Linked DNA regions of Homo sapiens. The protein of the gene in region 3 purifies or fractionates together with the protein of the main gene of each other region. This does not show direct contact. Each region holds a gene or a part of one and is shown on either strand. Other genes may lie near its edges.

Evidence for each region. The genes of interacting proteins can lie anywhere in the genome.
Region 1: the proteins of XPNPEP1 (region 3) and PEX7 purify together in Homo sapiens (co-immunoprecipitation; one large-scale study listed by IntAct). This does not show direct contact.
Region 2: the proteins of XPNPEP1 (region 3) and IRGQ fractionate together in Homo sapiens (co-fractionation; one large-scale study listed by BioGRID). This does not show direct contact.
Region 4: the proteins of XPNPEP1 (region 3) and API5 fractionate together in Homo sapiens (co-fractionation; one large-scale study listed by BioGRID). This does not show direct contact.

The regions. Positions count from the first base shown.
Region 1 is NC_000006.12:136,867,592-136,871,091, reverse strand, and holds part of PEX7 (peroxisomal biogenesis factor 7), read right to left. Parts: intron 1,203-3,500; coding exon 1,089-1,202; intron 1-1,088. UniProt on the Homo sapiens protein: Receptor required for the peroxisomal import of proteins containing a C-terminal PTS2-type peroxisomal targeting signal. Specifically binds to cargo proteins containing a PTS2 peroxisomal targeting signal in the cytosol.
Region 2 is NC_000019.10:43,589,635-43,593,134, forward strand, and holds part of IRGQ (immunity-related GTPase family Q protein), read right to left. Parts: coding exon 2,392-3,500; 3' UTR 1-2,391. UniProt on the Homo sapiens protein: Autophagy receptor that specifically promotes clearance of misfolded MHC class I molecules by targeting them to the lysosome for degradation.
Region 3 is NC_000010.11:109,913,512-109,917,011, reverse strand, and holds part of XPNPEP1 (xaa-Pro aminopeptidase 1), read left to right. Parts: intron 1-1,912; coding exon 1,913-2,001; intron 2,002-3,500. UniProt on the Homo sapiens protein: Metalloaminopeptidase that catalyzes the removal of a penultimate prolyl residue from the N-termini of peptides, such as Arg-Pro-Pro. Contributes to the degradation of bradykinin.
Region 4 is NC_000011.10:43,325,496-43,328,995, reverse strand, and holds part of API5 (apoptosis inhibitor 5), read right to left. Parts: intron 2,490-3,500; coding exon 2,385-2,489; intron 1,208-2,384; coding exon 1,118-1,207; intron 285-1,117; coding exon 103-284; intron 1-102. UniProt on the Homo sapiens protein: Antiapoptotic factor that may have a role in protein assembly. Negatively regulates ACIN1. By binding to ACIN1, it suppresses ACIN1 cleavage from CASP3 and ACIN1-mediated DNA fragmentation. Also known to efficiently suppress E2F1-induced apoptosis.

The sequences.
Region 1 (3,500 bases), on a different chromosome or scaffold from region 3:
TTATTAAAAAATAAAACAGAGCACTGTGTCTCCTATGTTGCATTGCAGCCAGAGAAACTTAAAATATTAACTTAACTAAAAATTTAGAATTTTTGGCCAGGCACAGTGACTCAGCCTGTAATCCCAGCACTGTGGAAGGCTAAGGCAGGCAGATCACTTGAGGTCAGGAGTTCAAGACCAGCCTGGCCAACACTGTGAAACCCTGTCTCCACTAAAAATACAAAAAAATTAGCCGGGCATGGTGGTGCACACCTGTAGTCCCAGCTACTCAGTAGGCTGAGGCAGGAGAACAGCTTGAACCCAGAAGGCAGAGGTTGCAGTGAGCTGAGATCGTGTCTGGGTGACAGGGCAAGACTCCATCTCAAAAAAAAAGAAAAAAAAATTTAGAATTTTTTAAATAGTAGGAATAACATAATTACCTTATTAAAATAATCAATAAGGTACTTTTTTATCCTTAACGTAAAAAAACAAAAGGATGAAATTGGGAGATGTCACTTAATAAGATGTTTTCCACAGTCATTTAGCAGAACCTGCCTAAATATAAAAGCCAGGAAACCAACCTAAGTCATCTTATAACCCAGATAAATTTACTGAGACCATCATTAAAAATTTACCTCATCCTCTGCTGTTCACAGAGTAGAAAACTTTCTATATCCCAAACATCTGTGAACAGTCATGTATGTTATCATGTTAGGAAAAAGAAAGAATTAACCATCTCTTTACATCTGTTTCAACAAAGTAGAGACTCTCGCTAATTAGAAACTTATAAAGAACATAATACTAAAAGTGAATTACTATAGTTAAAAAAATATATTAAAGGAAAAACAGATTGGAGGTGAAAGAATGAGAAAAAGATTTTTATTTAACCTTAAGTATTGAATGTCTACATTGCCCAAATTCATTCAATCATTATTCAAATATTTTTGCCTAATTTTAGCTTTCACTACTAATTAATTGGGTAACAAAAACACATATAAAAAAGAATTAGTAACTCCAATCCCTAAACCCAGAACACTTTTTAATATACACTTCATTGATTATATTTATATAATTTTATTCTACATATAAAAGAAAAGATGAAAACTTACTTTCACCCTCCTAATAGCATAGGTATGACCAAGAAGTTCAAACACTGGTTGTCGTACATTCCTTAAGTCCCAGCCTCTCAAACTACAGTCAACCGCCCCGGTCACCAGCAAATTCTAAAAACAATTCAGAGAAACATAAACTGTGACATCTTTGCAATTAAACAGTATGCAGGCTTTCCTACTAGAAACAACATCTGCTTTCTGATAACTATTTAATATGAACCAAGGAGTCATTTTTGAGAAGTTGTATAACAAGTATAGACAGGAATCAACATAGACATTAATAGCAAAAAACTAATATGACTTGTGAGAAAAAGAACTCAATATGCTTTATGTACACGATGGAACACTACAGACAGCTGGAAAAGGCATAGTTCCAAACAGCATTGTGGATTTTCTAATTCAGCTTTAGAAGCGGCAGTAAATACATAGGGGATTAAAAATTTTATCTGACAAATGAGCCCAGCTTTCTCTTCAAAAGGTTTTCCCTGGAATTCCAGCACCTTGGGAGGCAAAGGTGGGAGGATCACTTGAGGCCAGGAACTTGAGACCAGCATGGACAATAAAGCAAGACCCTGTCTACCCAAAAAATTAGCCAGGCGTGGTAACACACACCTGTAATTTTAGCTACTTGAGAGGCTGAGTGAGGCAGGAGGATTGTGTGAGCCCAAGAGTCAGAGGCTACAGTGTGGTATGATCACCCCACTGTACCTCAGCCTGGATGACACAGCGAGACCCTGTCTCTAAAAAAAAAATAAAAATTTAAAAAAGGTTTTCAAGGCTGGGTGCGGTGGTTCACTCCTATAATCCCAGCACTTTGGGAGGCCAAGGCCGGTGGATCACTTGAGCCCAGGAGTTTGAGACCAGCCTGGGCAACAGTGAGACCTCATCTCTAAAAAACAAACAAACAAAAAGGGTTTCAACATACTCTGAGGTTTTTCCAGGCATTAAAAGGCAAGAGGTCTGTTCATTTAGGCACATCTGAAAAAGCAAAGGCTATGAATTAAATTTTTCCATGTTCTCTAAATCTAAATTAATCATTGTTTCCAACTCTCTTGGACCAAAATTCTTAATACGATATCTAATCATATCCAAGAATGTAATCAAATAGTGGTGAGTCTCTTATCTATTCCGGCTTTACAAATTCTGCTATCTAGAGCCCCAAGTGAACCCAGAGGTCCTGGCTGAATAGGACAAGTGCTGGGTCCACACTCAGTCCACCCCACATAACTCAGAACAGCAATGGATTTAAGTTGGCGCAAAAGTAGTTGCAGTTTTTGCCATTGAAAGTAATGGCAAAAACTGCAACTACTCTTGCACCAACCTAACATTGTCTGACTATGTTGGGCTTTAGTTTAAGCTAATTTGAAGAAAAGTTTCAGTTATTAGAAAATAATTTTTGTAAATCACTCTCAAATGTCTATCAGCATCTTTCTTTAGAGTTCCCAAACATCTAACATACAGGCCATAATTAATTTTCCAATATGAAACATTCATTTATGAGTTTGAAACTATAGTCATCAGCATTGAAATGTTTAGATTGAGTAATATCATTGTATATATACTATATTTTAACTTATTTTACTTATTTTTATTTAAAGAACTCTGCCAATACAATGTTCTTTTAACTTTAATTAATTTAAAACTGGGAAAAAAACAAAGCATACATTTTACCTATTTGTCACGGTCAACAGACCACTTCAGGGACATAAATACAGTCATGCATCACTTAATGATGGGGATATGCTCTCAGAAATGTGGCATTAGGCAATTTCATCTTTGCGTGAACATCACAGAGTGTACTTACACAAACCTAGGTGGTACAGCCTAGTACACACCCAGGCTAGATGAAACAGCCTATTGCTCCTAGGCTACATGCCTGTCCAGCATGTTACTGTACTGAATACTGTAGGCTACTGTAACACAATTGTAAGGCTTTCTGTATCTAAACATAGAAAAGGTATAGTAAAAATATAGTATGGAAGATAAAAAATGGTAGTAGGGTCCTTACCATGAATGGAGCTTACAAAACTGGAAATTACTCTGGGTGAGTCAGTGAGTGAATGAGTAGTGAGTGAATGGAAAGGCCTAGAACATTACTGTACACTAAATTTATTTTTTATTTCCTTTCTTCAATAATAAATTAACCTTAGCTCACTGTAATTTTTTGCTTCATAAACTTTCTAATTTTTTTTAAAGTTTTTTGTTGTTGTTGTTGTTGTTGTTTTGAGATGGAGTCTTGCTCTGTTGCCAGGCTGGAGTGCAGTGGCGTGATCTTGGCTCACTGCAGCCTCTGCCTCCCAGTTCAAGCGATTCCCCTGCCTCAGCCTCCCGAGTAGCTGGGACTACAGGCGCCTGCCACCATGCCTGGCTTTTTTTACTTTTTGACTCTTCATAATAACAAAACTTAAA
Region 2 (3,500 bases), on a different chromosome or scaffold from region 3:
TGTTCTAGATGCTGGGGAAACAACAGAGAACAGGACAGGCAACGGGTCAAAAGCCAATAAACAGGTAAATAAATAAGATCATTTTTGACAGTAATAATTGCTACAAGGAAACTCAACTGGCCGAAATGAATAGTGGGGGAATGTGAGCTACTTCAGATAGGGTGGTCAGGGAGGGGAAGTCCTCTCTGAGGGGATACGTGAGCTGAGATCTGACTGAGCCCGTCACAGGAAGGTTTGAGAGTAGAACAGGAAGTTGTGAGTAGAGCCTTGAAGGAAAGAGAACAGCAGGTGCATGGGTCCCCAGGCAGGACTCAAGGTAGCCACTCAGGCATCAGAAAGAGTCAGGCGGCCATGATGGCTCACACCTGTAATCCCAGCACTTTGGGAGTCTGAGTCGGGTGGATCACCTGAGGTCAGGAGTTCGAGACCAGCCTGACCAACAGGGTGAAATCCCTTCTCTACTAAACTACAAAAATTAGCCAGGTGTGGTGGCACATGCCTGTCATCTCAGCTACAGTCATCACATCCCTGTACTCCAGACTGGGTGACAAGGTGAGACTCCATTTCAAAAAAAAAAAGAAGGAAAGTCTATCAGGCTGGACAGGAGTGGGAAGGGGCAGTGAATGAGAATAGGCAAGGGCCAGACCCACAGGGCCTTACTGTGTGCTGTTGGGCCTCAAGCCTGCCCTCTCTGGACTTTGCTCTTTCTGTCTACGACAAAAGGGATTCTATCGCTTGGATTCTCAGATCCTCCTTTTCTGTTTTTGACACTGAAGAATTCTGTAACCTGCAACTTTTCCCCCACATGTGGCTAGCAGCCTAGAACATTCCAGGCACTGTGGTTTCTGCCTTTGCTTCATTCACTCCTGGCATATTCCCATGGTCTCAAGTGCCTGACCACCCATTTGGTGGGCCCCTGGCTCAATGCAGCACCCTCTATGTACATCAGAAAGCAGAGCCTCTTGGGGATACCCGAGGTGTCCATACAGAAGTGTTTGGACCAGTGCAGCAGTACAGCTGCTCTTCTGAAAAGGAAGGTGCACAAAACACCAAGGCCATAAAGGGTTATGGTTAAATACCAGGAGAAAAAGGCCAAAAAAAGATAGAAACTCCTAAAGAAAAGAGACAGAGAAACAGACTCCCCAGAGATCACCTGAATTGCTCAGCACCTAGAAGATGAAGGCAGTCATATCCCTTCCCAGTCACACTCACAGAGGCAGTTGCCGGGATCCCAATACAAGGTTTGGAGGAGCTGTCTCTGAGGTATGCTTTACTGCCCTTCCACACCCAAAAGACCTCATTCCTGGTCCCTGGCTACTCCCAGAGCCCACCATGCCCAGACCTCTTACCCACCTCACCTCATTTTTGTGGGACCACCCTCCCTACATGCTTTTGGAGGGCAATTATAGAAACCCATCCACTCCCCAGGAGAGATCAAGAAGTCTCCAGCTTTCTCGCACAAGCCCCCGATCCCTCCTCCAGATGCAGACCTCCCCTTACCCAATATTTAGGAACCAAGGTCCACAGCCATCTTAGAACCCCGGAAGTCTCAGACCCCAGGGGCCTCCGCCACCCCATCAAGATTCAAAGCCCACTGCTCCTTGGGGACCTGTGTGCAGGCTTTTTCTCCCAGAGAAATGTAGACCCTGTTTCCCTCTGAGGCTCTGAAGCCCAAGAGTTCCAGCTCCCTGGGGCGCTCAGGTCTCCCTCCCCTATACTGGAGTTCAGGTCCCAGTCATGGACACCTCCCCACCAATTAGGAAACAGGACTTCTACCAGCCTCCCTGGAGGACTAAACATCCAGTAACTCCAGTTTCTACTCCCTAGGAGACAAAGACATAGTCCCTGCTAGAGTCTGGGCCACCAACTCCCTTCAGGACAGAAGGGTCTAGATGTCATTCACCATGGTTCCCAAAGGTATCAGGATTCCTGGCCAGGGGCGGTGGCTCACGCCTGTAATCCTAGCACTTTGGGAGGCCGGAGCGGGTCGATCGCCTGAGGTCAGGAGTTCGAGGCCAGCCTGGCCAACATGGTGAAACCCCGTCTCTACTAAAAATACAAAAATTAGCCAGGTGTGGTGGCAGGCACCTGTAATCCCAGCTACTCCGGACGCTGAGGCAGGAGAATCGCTTGAACCCGGGAGGCGGAGGTTGCAGTGAGCCGAGGTCGCGCCATTGCACTCCAGCCTGGGCAACAAGAGACTTCGTCTCACAAAAAAAAGAAAAAAAAAAAAAAAAATCAGGATTCCTGTCCCCCAGACTCTCTGAATCCAGGTGATAAGAAGTCACACATCCCAGCTGGAAGTCAAGAGTCCACATCCCCTTCAAGCACCCAGGATTAAGCCCAGGCATCCCCTGTCAGAGTCTGGACTCCCAAGCCCCCTCCCACTCCTCACTGGGCAGGCTCAGGGGGTGCCAGCACAGCCTCAGCATCAGCCCGCATCTCATCGAGAGCCTGCAGCAGGACGCCGTGAGCCGCTCGGTAGCCCAGGCCACCTGTCGCCGCTGCACCACCCGCAGGCCACAGGAAGGAGAGAGCCCCCAGTGCTGCGCCCCCAGCAGTGCCCTCGCCCGCCCAGGCGCCCAGTCTTGCTTCCACCTCGGCGCGCGTCACCGGGCCTGGGAAATGAGCGCGCGCTGCCAGCTCTCCAGAAGCCAGGCCCAGGGCACGCTCACGTCGAGCCAGTGCCGTGGGTTCCAGCCCCAGGCCCCGTCGCCACTCCGCCAGCTGACCCCGCAGAAGTGCCACGTCGCATGCCCAGCCCAGCCCTGGGAGTGGTGCCGCCGCCGCCGCCAGACTAGCCAGCAGAGCTGGCCTCCACGCCCCGGCTCGCAACGCCGCAGCCTTGGTTCGGGCAGCGCTGGGAGATGCTGGTGGCAACGCCAGCAGCAGTGCCCCTGCCTGGGCTGGGGGGAGCGCTCGCCGCAGCCATTCGCATAGCCCTGGGAGTCCGCCAGGCCGTAGGGGGAACACTGGCGGCGGCGCCTCCTCCAGCACCTCCCACGTCTCGTCCTCCGGGCTTAACGCAGCGGCCCGCTCTGAGTCGCCACCACCTGATTTCTTCATGCCGACAACCTGCTGCAAACCCTCGCTGCCAGCTTTCCCAGGACCTTCCCCGCTGCCTGCTTTCTGCGATCCAGCGCTACATTTCTCCCTTCCCTTACTGAGTGCATTCTCCAATCCCCCTCCACCTGCGTTCTTTAAGCTCTCGCCCTTGGGATTCTCCATCTTGCCTTCTCCCAGACACTCCGGATCCTCGCCCTCGCCGTCTGTGCGCACGCAGACAAGAGGCGCATCTGGTAGCAGCAAGGCCTGGACCTGGGCCCAGTCCTTCTCAGTGGGGGCCCCAGGGGTGACGAGGATGAGGGCGTCGTAGTGCGTTGGGTGAGAGGCGGCGGCCGCGGTGGTGGCAGTGCCCGTGTGGCCCAGAGGCACGGTCCAGAGCACCACATTCGGGCGCTCTGGGGCTGGGAAGGGAGTGGGTGCTGTGGGGACCGAAG
Region 3 (3,500 bases):
ATGATGTTAGCTGTAGGTTTTGTAATAACTTTTGTCAGGTTGAGGAATTTTTCTTCTAGTTTGCTGAGTACTTTTAACTTGAAGGGGCATTGGATTTTGTCGTGCTTTTTCTGCGTTTGTTGAGAAGACCATGTAGATTTTGTTCTTTATTCTATTGATATGGCCTGTTATAATAATTGATTTTTCATATATTGAGCCAACCTTGTATTCCTGGGATAAGACCCACTTGGCGATGATGATCCTTTTTATATTGTTCTAGATTCCGTTTGCTGGTATTTTGTTGAGGATATTTGTATTTATATTTTAGAAGACATATTGGGGTGTCTTACTTTTTTATGAAAGAATAATATGTTTACTCTCGTTAAGAACATCCCATTCTGTCCAGTAAAACTAAAGTCACAGCCATATGAAAGCAGGCCTAGAGTCATTGGTAAAGCTGCCTGGTTATCTGGTTCTTACCGTGTGGTAGACTGAGCTAATGTGTCCCTCTCTGTCTTTACCAACATGTAAAAATGCGGTTAAATTATAACTTAATTGAGTTCATAGCTGAGTAAAATTCAAAACCTTTTCTATGGCCCCACAGTAGGCCCCCTGGTGCCTCAATGATGTTGTCTCTGAACCACTTACCTCCCCATCCCCTGATACAATCACACTGCGCTGACCTTCTTGCTTTTCCTCAGGTAAACTAGACATACTCCTGCCTCATGGCCTTTGCACTTGCTGTTGTCCTGGAACATTGTTCCCCTAGCCGTTCACATGGCTTGCTTCCTCACTCTTTTTAGGTCTGTGTTAAAATGTTGTCTGTTATAATAGAGGCTGTCCCTGGCTACCCCATATGAAATAATCCTTCCCCTTACCTCCTTGATGCTTTCTTCCCCTTGCTGTGCTTTACTTTTTTTCACAAAACACGTTCTTATTACTTGACGTATTGTGTACTTGTTTTGTGTCTGTTGCCTTCTCTTCCCTGTCTTCTGCCCATCCCCCTGCCTTGCCCCATCTTAATTTGTTAAAGTCAGAGATCTTGTCTGTTTTGTTCACTGTTGTGTCCAGAATAGGGCCTGGATTATGGAAGATTTTTCAATAAATATTTGTTGACTGAATGAACTTGAAAGAAAGAGAAATCCTCAAGTGCCAAAAATGTAGAGGGAACCTAACGCCTGAGTGGTATGCTAGTAACCTGAGCCTGGGAAAGTTACCAGATGCAGATATAGACCTTCATGCCTGGTGTCCAGGGCATTAGACTATCCCCATATGGGAACAAGAAGTTTGTGTGTAAATCTTCTAGCTAATAAATTAATGTGAAAGTCTTAGAAGCAAACAATAACAGAACTGCTTGTACAAACCAGGACCCATCACATTCTCATAGATAAATAGCCTCTATTGAAGATAAGCTCTTAATAAAAGATCACAAAACGCAGAAGGAATGAACCACCAAGAGGGAGAGGCAGCAGACCTAGCAAACATGAGGGTTAGTCTCCCAAGATCTATTTGAAAGTATGGGAGAAATTATAAAATAAGGGCCTACAGTAATGAAGGCACAAAGAGAAGGCATAGAAACCAGAGTGCAAGAATAGGACACCATAAAGAAAGAACGGGCAGATGTGAAAAAGAACCAAATAGAACTTGTGTAAGGAAAAAACATTGAAAATAAGTCTTCTTAGTCTAGTTAAATAGGAGGTGTGAGAATTTATGAACTAGAAGCTGCAACTGAGAAGGTTAACCTGCCATGGGGATGTTTTACACCTGCAAGTTTTACATCAAACTTTTATTTATTCTGCCACTGATAATGGGGGTGAAAGTTCTTCTGACTCATGTTAGAGAACTGCTAAGTTAAGCGATGCCTCCTCTAACTGAGCCTTGCCACGTTTATTGTGGTCAAAGTCTGCAACTTCCTGTTCTTTCTCTCCTTAAGGGTGAATCACCAGGATTTTCAACTGAGAAATTTAAGAATAATTGAACCTAACGAGGTGACACACTCAGGAGACACAGGTGTGGAAACAGGTAATAATTTTGTCTGGAAATTAGATGGAACATCTGTAAAGGATTTTAGATCTCCACCCCAACCCCAGGTTGGGTGAGAAGAAGAGGGTAAGGAATTAGTAACAGATCATGACTGGGGGTTAGTATCTGGAAGTTAAAAACCATTTTATTTTTTGGCTTCCTAAGTGGTTGGTTACTGTTTCTATATATTTACCATTTTTTTTTTTTTTTTTTGAGACGGAGTCTCGCCCTTGGTCACCCAGCCTGGAGTGCAATGGCGTGATCTCGGCTCACTGCAACCTCCGTCTCCCGGGTTCAAGCGATTCTCCTGCCTCAGCCTCCGGAGTAGCTGGGATTACAGGCGCCCGACACCACGCCCAGCTAATTTTGTATTTTTAGTAGAGATGGGGTTTCTCCATGTTGGCCAGGCTGGTCTTGAACTCCCGACCTCAGGTGATCTGCCCGCCTTGGCCTCCCAAAGTGCTGGGATTACAGGCATGAGCCACTGCGCCTGGCCATTACCATTTTTTTTTAAGGTAGTAAGTTAGAGAATTACAACTTTTTTTTTGTTGTTTGTTTTTTTCGTTTTCCATTTTTGTCAGAGTGGTGGTGGTGGAGAAGGAGATAGGTTATTATGGAAAATGTTCTCTATTTCTCTAATATAGTCCTTCATTATCTTAGAAATTAGCTTTCAATTTTGATCATAAGATTGCAAAATGAGAAAAGCTTGTAATATATTATTGTCCTTTATAAATTGAGTGTGCATTTAGGAAAGTCTTTTTGGGAAATATTTCTTGGCTGTCCCTTCTCCCCAGAACTGGTTAATTGTCTGATGGGTTGCCAGAAACCTGAATTCTGAAAAGTGGTGTATTACTGTATTTCTATCCCAGTAAGCCAGTACTGCTCTAACGACTACTAAGGAGAACCATGTGTTTTTTTTTTTTTTAGCTGACTGAAAAATTGATCTCTTGAAGTACATAAGAAACCATGCCCGTCTAATCTCTGTTTGGAAGATCAGTGCTATAATTGCATGCAATTTTAGATCCTTTTTCTTTAAAAAATATAGATGTATCCAACACATTTTGGACCATATTAGGAGGTAGCAGAGGAAGGAGGAAAAAGAGAAAGTAAAGAAAGGAAAAAAGTGATGGAATCATTAAACTTAGAGTTGGAAGATAACTTCTTTTTCTTTTTGTAATGTATGAGGAAATAGAGGTTAGGTAGCTTCAGTTGCCTGAGGTTGTAGATCCCAGCTGGAAACTGGAGCTCACTTGTTTTGCTTCTGTTGGTCTTAGAACACTTTAAGGCTCTATTATGTCCCCCAGCTAATATGGTGTAATAGAGCATGGACTTGGGAATTGCATAGACCTTGAGTCCCGGTTCCTGATGAACCAGCTGACTTTGGGCAAGTACTTAACTCCTTTTAACTCCTGTTCCTTTATGTGTAAAATGAGAATAGTGAAACCTCCCTTGGAGGATTGTTGTGAGAATTAGCCACTAATGTATGTAAAGCCCTTAGC
Region 4 (3,500 bases), on a different chromosome or scaffold from region 3:
AAGGCAGGATGGGGAGCTCTCATAGAACAAAAGCAAAACCCAAGGAACTTCAGGATAGCTACCACCTTTGCCAAGGATTGAGCCACCTCAATCATATATCACCTGATTTTGAAATCTTTGAGCTTTTCTGCATTCAGTTTGGCTGTTAAGAAATCTGGAAGTTTTCGGCCCAACTGGTGAAAACTGTACAACAAACATTCCACATAACTGAACTGTAGCTTGGGTTCTTCATTACCAGCATTCTCTCCATTTTCTGCCTCTTCTGGAGGGAGGGGCATGTATTCCTAAGAGAGAAAAATATACAGATTTTGCAATCTGTTCTACATATTCAAATTATAAACAGATATTCAGGGAATTACAGTGCATGTTTTTAAGGCATGGAGCATTAAAAACTACCAAAACCAGACATTTGGATTTCTTTTTTACTTACTGGATCAATGCTCTAGCCTGTCAACGCTCCATATTAACCTGTTACAGCTGCTGTTACAGCTGCTATTATTAATAATGAAGATTAATGTAGCTATCATTTATTAGGCACTTACAGATAAAGGCACTGATGCTCTGAGAGTTAGGGTAACCTTCCCATGGTAACAAAGTTAATAAACTAAAGAGTCAGAATTCAATCTAGATTTGACATCAAATGCTGATGCTCTTAACAACTATACTATGCTTACTACAAAAATATTTTCTGAACGTAAGTCCATATTGTTTAAGTACTGACTCATTACAAGTGAAGTACTGCCAATGGCATTCAGTATCAGTGCTATAACAACCCAGTAAGTTACATCTGGACGAGTGCCAGATGTTGATGACTCAATTCATGCTAAGGACCTAATGCTTATCACTGTGTTAGTTATACAAATACATCAAATAAGAAAATCACTCAGTGATGCTGATAATGATTTTATCAGATGGCCTATTTTCTCCCTAATTATAAGAAACACCAAGATTAAAACAAAGTAGACAACAACATGTGGCCTAGGAAGCTAACAATACTTATTAGGATTATTGTTTAATTGAAATTTCAAAAACTGGTTCTTGTAATCTAGAAATTAATAATAAATTAGACTTTGAGCTATATACTGACTATCCCATAAGGAAAGGAAAAAGTTCTTACCAATAACTTATCAAATAGTTTCCTTAAATTTGTTTCTAGTTTTTCCATGTCACCACAAAATGAACTCATCTCCGCCAACAATTTCAATACCTAAAACACACAATTCACTATTACTGTTTTTTTGAATAAGCAAGGGTTATGAAATGAGAGTAATTCTAGATAACGATTTAAGACTTTATTTTCAATTATGTTTTCACAGAATCATAACATTTGAAATGGAAGAAAACCTTAGAGATAGATGCAGCCCAACATTTTACTGTGAAGGAAAGTAAAGGTCAGAGATTATGTGACTCGACAAAGTCACAGGGTGTAAGTGGCAGGGCAGACCCTAAAACCCAGATCCCATGATTTCCAATATATCTGTGAGAAGAAGTATGGAAAATAATACATACGACACTTTCTGCTACAGGTTAATGATTGTGCTAATTGCAAGGCAAAAATGATAAATATATTAACTATAAAGACACACTTAGTAAGAACTCTCAACAGCTAAGAACTAATTACTCATGGTTAAGGTGGGCCTCATTTCCTGTTAAATTTAGTCTCTGGATACTTACTCAAAATATTGGTAATGACCACTATTCTCAAGGTTCATTCCTGCATTTCCCAATCCCAGTCTGATGGGCCTAGCCCAGCACATTTGAAGCAAACTACCTTGTCAGTGCACAGTGAGATTCTTCTCTATCCCAAAGACCCATGAGGGAAATGGCACACGCATTTCCATATTTCAGTCCAATTCAATAATCACTATTGGGTGCTTGATTCAAAATCAAGTTTTGTGCCAGATTCTGGGGATACAGAGGTGAATCAGATTAAATGTAGGGAGAGATTATAAACAAATGTAAAGTATTACAGATGCTGTGAAAAAATGTTTACATACATTACAGTTGAGATACAAAGTTGGGAGGGGTAGTGAATTCTATTGAAGAAGGAATAAAGGATATTTTGTGTTAATCCAGTTTAAAATTGGCTCTGTCAGTTATGGATAGAAATGAATGAATTAAACACCTTATTTAAAAATATTAAGGCTACAAAAGTAGAGACTGACTATAATAAAACTACAGGTAAGGCTTTCCCATTGCAGCAAACTTTAATTGAATCCATGAAGCAGTCCTAATGCAATTAATTCTGGTCTAGGGAGATTACTGGCTGGCCATTACCAGACATTTAAACTGCTCCCTTAGAAATCGGATCTAAGTTAGTGGTTTACATTTTTGTTAAAATATAAGAATGCCTTATCAGTGCTAAAGCTGAAATTTTTGCTTACCTCCAACTGTATATCAAGACCTTCCACTGGGGTAGTCAAGGTACCGAGGTTAGGGAGAACCTGCTCACAGAAATATGTCACAAACCTTGTGGAATGGACATTTTTCTGTAAGAAATCCAAAGAAAATGCATTGTCGAAAAACAAATATTCGCTCAAATATTATAGCAGAATTTCATTCAATAAATGCTGAGCGCTACAGCATCAAGTATTCTGACTACAAATACGATATAGTGCACACCCCAGCATGCCCCAGATATAACCTCAATAGGTGATCTACGAAGGGGCTTCAATAAGTTCATGGAAAAATGGAATAAAAAGATAAAGAATAAAAAATATAAACTTTATTTATCAACATAAGCTCCATCAAGGTCAAGACACTTTTGCAGGTAATGATACCAGTCATCTCTGAACAACTGAGGGTCCTGGGAACTTAACCATGTCAATGCAGTCTTTTTTATACTATTAACCAAAGAAATGTGGGTGCCCTTTAAAGATGTTTTTTAAGATTAGGCAACAAAAAGAAATCAGAAGGGCCCAAATAAGGACTTTAAGGTGGATGCCTAATGATTCCTCATCAAAACTCTTAAAAAATTGTCCCTGTTTGATGAGAGGAATGAGCAGGAGCACTGTGGCGGTGGAGAACTCTGGTGATGCTTTCCTAGGCGTTTTCCTGCTCAATCTTTGGCCAACTTTCTCAAAACAAGCTCATAATAAGCAGACATTATTCTTTAGCCCTCCAGAATGTCAACCAGCAAAATGTCTTGAGCATCCCAAAAAACTGCCATAGCCCTTCCTCTTAACTGGTCTCTTTTTGCTTGGACTGGGCCCTTTTCACTTCCTGGCAGCCATTGCTTTGACTGTGTTTTGTCTTCAGAATTGCACTGCTAAAGCCATGTTTCACCTCCTGTTCCCATTCTTCAAAGACATGCTTCAGGATCTTGATCCCACTTGTTTACAATTTCCACTGAAAGCTCTGTTCTTGTCTGCAGCTAATCTGAGTGCAATGGTTTTGACACTCATCAGTAGGAAGTTTGTTAAACTTCAATTTTTCAGTCGGAATTGAATAAGCTGAACCAACTGAGATATCGATGATGTTGGCTATTGTTTCTGCTATTA